2 separate regions of the Homo sapiens genome follow, and region 2 is linked to region 1. Evidence: fine-mapped expression QTL. A gene starts in region 1. The other region holds a variant in brackets. All regions are shown on one strand. Distances are between the middles of the regions.

Region 1 (2,920 bases):
GACTTCACGTTCACTTTCTTGATTCTTACAAAAACCTGTGCTTAGAGTGTAGAAATATTTGTATCGTATTATATATGTGGGAAAATTTGAGCTCAGAAAGATTAAGTAACCTTGCTCAGGTTACAATCCCATTCAGTCGCAATTCTGGGATCAGATGCCTGGTCTTCCAACTTTGATTTGGTGAAGCTTCATCTTTTGGGCAAGTAAATAGGTAAAGAAGTATAGCACTTTCTTTGCCGATCTCCCTTATAGAAACACACTGCCCTGTAAACTTGGTCACAAAAACATTAATGAGAAGTGATGCATGAGCATAACTAAGTGATTTCATTTCCCTACCAATTTTATGATTTTAGATAATAAACAGTTTAACAGGGCCGGGCACGGTGGCTCACGCCTGTAATCCCAGCACTTTGGGAGGCCGAGGCGGGTGGATCACAAGGTCAGGAGATCGACACCGTCTTGGCTAACATGGTGAAACCCTGTCTCTACTAAAAATACAAAAAATTAGCCGGGCGTAGTGGCGGGCGCCCGTAGTACCAGCTACTCGGGAGGCTGAGGCAGGAGAATGGCCTGAACCCGGGAGGCGGAGCTTGCAGTGAGCCAAGATTGAGCGTGTTTTGCAAAGCGAGACACCGTCTCAAAAAAAAAAAAAAAAGCAGTTTAACATTTAACAGAAGTGGACAGCTGTTTTCAAATGGTGTAGGCAACGACAAACATTTATTTCACATACCTTATTCTCCTTAGTAGTCAGCTTCAATTGCTCCAGTTCCTCTCTATGTTTCTGTTCCATTTCTTTTTCCAACTTGGCCACATCTTCGGTGAGTTGCTTCCTCCTCTTCTTGTCATTCTTGGGAACAGCATTCTTCATGCCCTGAATTTTGGCTGAAAAGCCATTAAAATCATTAAGTCAGACACGCAGGAGTAAAAGGAGATGAGAAACAGGAACCAATAAGGGGATGGTAACGGGCGAAGGGTACAGAAAAAGTAATTATGGAAGAAAGAGTCATCACGTAACAGGCAGCTACAGAGAGAGAAGATCCCAGATAAAGCTGAGACCAAAAAAAAAAAAAACTTCATTAACAAAATCTTGAATATGTTTCGGTTGTTTGGCGAGATAAGAGAAGGAAAAAAACCTGACTGTAGCCAGTTTTAAATCTTTCCGGTATCCTTTCTGAACCTCCTAAACTGAGGCGGGTCCATTCAAAATACACCCATTAGGGACAAGTATCGGTAACTGGGGCAGGTATAGAAAAGGGAGGCATCGTGGGTTTGGGAGCGGACCAAGACGGCGGCTTCTAGGTATTTTCAGACACCTGCACCCCGGCGGCGGCGCGGGGTAGGGGGCACGCCGCAGGCCTCAGAAGGGGAAGCCTCTGAAGGTTGGGGAATTAAAGGGCCGCCGGGGTAGGTGAAGAGAGAAGAGGCCACTTGCTACTAGGGGAAGTCTAGGGTGATCCAGATAAGTCACGCCTTGAGATTCCCCAGAATCGACCCGCCACGCGCCCTTCCCCCAGTCGCGGCGGCTTCCAGATTCCCACTTCCTTCCGCCTCACCTTGCAACTCCTTCTTCTCTTTGCGATGCCTTCTCAGCAGCTGCTCTTCCTCATCAAGCTCTTCGGTCAATACCGCCTCCATGACGACCAGGTACCCCAGCACACGCGCTAGAAGAAACCTGCACCGGCTAGTAGGCACCTTCCACCCCTCAACCCTCACCCGGGGCTCCATTGGCTACGGCTGGGACCCAGCCCCGCCTTCAAGGCGGCACCGGATCTAAGCAAAGCCACTGCAAAGACGAGAAACTTAAATGGGGTGCTGCGCGTGCGCGCTACCGTGACCCTGCCGTGATGGGCGGGGCGGCAGGGGAGGAACCAGACTGCGAGCGGAGAAGCGGAGTTTGCAGCCTCGGAATTGGCTAGAGCGCCAGAGCCGAGTCAGCCATAAAGCTACGCGCTAGGCTCTTGGCCCTGACGTGAGGCGCGCAGAGATGGCGTAACGGGAATAGTTTTCAACGTCTATTTCATTCCCTGCTTCAGAGGACCTCTTTAATCTTTGATTTTGGTCCCTGTTTCTAAGAAAAGCAACTGAAAAGGTAAGAAAGAAAAATAACGCATTTTAATAAAGCCGTCGATAATTATCAATGGGAATCTTTGGGCTGTTTGGGGCTGTGTGGAATTAAATTATGTTTATTGTCTCCAAGGTCGTAATACCGCCCCTGAGAAAAAAGGAGCAGCGCTAAATAATCGAGAAAATGCCTCCTCTTGAAACGGATATAGAGATGGAAACAAGATATAAGAAGGATTGAGAATCATATAATACAGGAGCTTAAACACCTATGCGCGATGATAAAGAGGGTACTATTAGAGCGCTTGGAAAATACCAGGAAGTTGAGAGAGTTAACAGAAGGGCGCACGCTGGATTGGCCACAAAATCGAATTACTGAAGTAAGTGCAAAACGACAAATTGTCACAGAATACAGAGAAAAGGGGAAAAGAAATTAAGAGGAGAAAAAGAGAGATCTAGAGGGCCGGTCCAGGAGATACAATCTATGCATAATAGGAATACCTGAAACTGAGGACAGAGCAAGTGGAGCTGAAACAATAAAGGATCTACTTGAAAAAATTTTCCAGAATTGAAGAACGAACTAGATCTACAAATGGAAAAGGCTCATAGGATACCTTTAAAGTTTAATGAAAAGAAAGCAGCATCTAGACATATCCGGGTGACGTTTTTGAATTTCAAAGACGAAACATTTTACAAGCATCCAGTCAGAGAAAGCAGGTTACTTACAAAGGGGCAAAAGTCAGGCTGACCTCAGATTTTTCTCCTGCAATTCTAAATGCCAGAAGACAGTGGAACAATATCTAGAGTGTTAAGGGAAAATAATTTTGAGCCAAGAATTATATACTCTGCCAAGTTATCA
Region 2 (2,920 bases), 140 kb before region 1:
CAGGGACTATCCCATTTACTGGAGATGCCTTCTTCTCACAGCATCCTGTGCAGCTTCACATCTGCTTATCACAAGAATGCAATCATTCTCTCTTTCTTGTCTGAAAGCCTTGGTTTACAAAACACACACATAAAAAAAAATACTTATTAAGCACCTACTATATGCTACCTTTGTTGAACACCCACTGTACTAAGCACTGTTTATGCATTACCTCATGATCCCTAGCCACAGTTCTGTGTGATGGGTATTATTATTATTGCCATTTGACAGGATGAGGAAGCTTAGCCTTGAAGAGGGAAGTAACAGGACACAGGTGGCAAGTGGTAGGGCTGGACATCAAACCTAACTTGTCAGATTCCAATCCTTATTATCCCACTTCTCCTGGGAACATGTGAGTTTCTCAAGGATCAGGGTTCTGTATTCCCAGCCCTGGCAAATAATCTGACACACAGTTAGAAAAAAATAAATAAGTTTCAGTGGATAAATAAATGAGGACAGAAGAAGGATCTTTAACATAAATGTCTTAAGTTCAGCTGAAGTAAATGGGGAATAACTAGGTTGGAAAAGCATAGGAAACATAGCCCAGACTCTCTGGTTAAGGATCAGGAATAACATGTATGAGTTCCCTGCCCATATCCTCTACTTGGCAGCTTTCTGAAATTGGCAAAATTACTTGGTTTCTCCTTGCCTTGGATTTCTTACTGGTGTCATGGGGTTATTTTGGACATTAATTGAGGTATTCCAGGTGACATATTTAGCAGAGCACCAGATGCACACTCAGTACCAAATAAATTCTGGCTGTTGTTGCTTGTATTAGGTTGTAGTTTCTGAAAGAGAGACATGAAATAAGAGTAGCAGCACATCAGATGGTTTTGAGAGGGAATCTGTCAGAGCACAATTAAACATGGCAACTTGTCTAAGGTGTTCAGAACATCACCAGTGGAAAGCAGGATGTTTTGAAAACTGTTTCCGAGTAATCTGACACGCTGTACTCATTAAATGTCTCTTGAATATAACAATCCATTCCAGATGATAATGTGAACAATTCACAGATAGCTACATATGTGATCAAGATTACATATTTACTCCCATCTTGAGGACCAACATACATTTCTATCCTCATTTTCCCACCGATGAGCTGTCTTTTCTCTTTGTATTTAAGGTCCAGCTGGTTTTAACTTTCAAATTCCTGCTCAACCACTATTTTAATGTTCTCTTTGGCTATCTGTTTAGTTCTAGATTCTGGGCTTTTAAAAATTTTAACATTAGCCTTCCTTGGCAGCACCTTTGCCAGATTTTTCTTATGATACATAGAGATGTAATATGTTGACAAACTAATTAAAGGAGGAGCTGGTATTCAAATCCAGATCTGATTTATCATTCTGTAGAAATAAAATTTTATCAGGTATTGTCCGAAGCTCTCTCTCTATAAAGGTGAACAAAACCAAAATGGTTCTTAAATTCCTTGAGCTTAGTATTCAGTGGTAGAGACAGACACCAACACCAAGTAAATCGATTACTACAAATTTTGCTAAATGCCATGAAGACTTCAAAGCTTTCTGATATAAACACCAACTCAACTTTGACAAAGACATTTCCATAGCAAGAGCATCAAGGT[A/C]TTGAAAAACTGAACAACTTAAATCACTGTTTCTTATTCATAGAGAACTTTTATAGGCAACCACTACACTAAAGCCCAATATACATGTAACTGAGATGAGAATGATTTCTCTGATTAGATTCTTCCACTTTTATTTTTTTGTCTTAAGCACACATGGTTATGTCTAGTAAGACATAATTTGTACATGACTGGATCAAGAGGAAAACACTTCTAGCCTTCCTTTTAGTCTCCCAATTCACATGCAACATTTTACAATACTTGGCAGTGTCAAAAACTCTGGTAAAGGACATTGTGAGAAAAATTGTAGTAGCTCTACACCACAACCACAGCTGATTTAGGTCTTTTACTCTGGACTAGCTCTGTGGATCCTGTCTATCAGGCTGTCTGTCAGGATCCACAGAGCTAGTTCAGAGTAAATACCTGATATCAGGTGACGTGAATACCTGGCATCAGGTGATGTGTAAATACCTGACATCAGGTGATGTGAACTCTGATGACTGTTCCTGGATTTCATTCTACAGGATTATAAATGAACTACGTAAAGCAGCTGTTGTAAAATCTGTACTCTGCTTCTTGGAAAGTAAACAGGCCAGTAACGTGAGCCTCCATGTCCTAAGCGTGGGTTAGTATAGCTAAAATAACCTACATATTTTCTGGCTCATATATTGTGTTATCCACTGTAACTCTTGATAAAATCTCTCTACTTGGTATGAAGGATAGCTTTATTTATCCATTCATTCATTCATTCATATTTTTTATAATTCGAATCTATTCTTCTATTTTTGCCCTGAAAAGTAATAATACAATCTTTCTAGGTAGGCTACATTCTTGGCTTGTGTCAATATCAAATTTGTTTTGGACAAGATGCATCCTGAAAGGCAAAAAACAGTAACAGATAAGGCCAATGGAAAAAAATATTAAAAATCGGCAACTCTAGGTAAAGGGTATACAAATGTTCATTGTATTATTCATTCAAGTTATGTGTTGTTTTCCAATTTCTCAAACTAAAAAGTTGGTGGAAAAAAAGTTGTCCTTGTTGAACCTCATGATGAACAACACATATAGTGAAGTTCATGAAAGAAAGTTTCACAATTACAGTTTTGAGAAAGATAATGTATCTCTGAACCTAAGTAGTGATGATCTCATCCAGGAGTTAGAAATGTAAGCTTATGAAACAACTAATAATGCTAGTAAGAATACATTATCAGCATTCACATGCACTCATCGATTGTCCCTGGGGAGGCCATGGGCTGTGAAAGGCGAAAGGCCTAATCCAGGCTCTGGAGATCCTTGGGAACATAG

Which allele goes with the higher level. Positions count from the first base shown, and alleles are read on the strand shown. Sizes are in standard deviations (SD) of each study's normalised expression.
In carriers of allele C in region 2, the expression in subcutaneous fat of the gene that starts at base 1,676 in region 1 tends to be higher than with A alone (small effect, 0.22 SD a copy in GTEx).

The links. PIP is the estimated chance that this variant, and not a neighbour inherited with it, causes the effect. A credible set is the group of variants that fine-mapping cannot tell apart.
Region 2: its variant is the best candidate, but not a certain one, in a credible set for the expression of OTUD6B in subcutaneous fat (GTEx, PIP 0.54).

What each region holds. Positions count from the first base shown.
Region 1 is chr8:91,069,100-91,072,019 of GRCh38, reverse strand. It overlaps OTUD6B (OTU deubiquitinase 6B), which reads right to left and starts at 1,676. Exons shown (of 7, transcript NM_016023.5): 1 at 1,554-1,676; 2 at 731-882. The coding sequence starts at 1,635. It overlaps OTUD6B-AS1 (OTUD6B antisense RNA 1), which reads left to right and starts at 1,831. Exons shown (of 3, transcript NR_110438.1): 1 at 1,831-2,089; 2 at 2,198-2,441. RefSeq lists an enhancer at 1,449-1,628.
Region 2 is chr8:91,204,600-91,207,519 of GRCh38, reverse strand. The region is part of intron 7 of LRRC69 (leucine rich repeat containing 69); the gene reads right to left. MIR4661 (microRNA 4661) reads right to left here and starts at 2,035; the gene lies at 1,961-2,035. The variant A/C (reference allele first, on the strand shown) is at 1,619.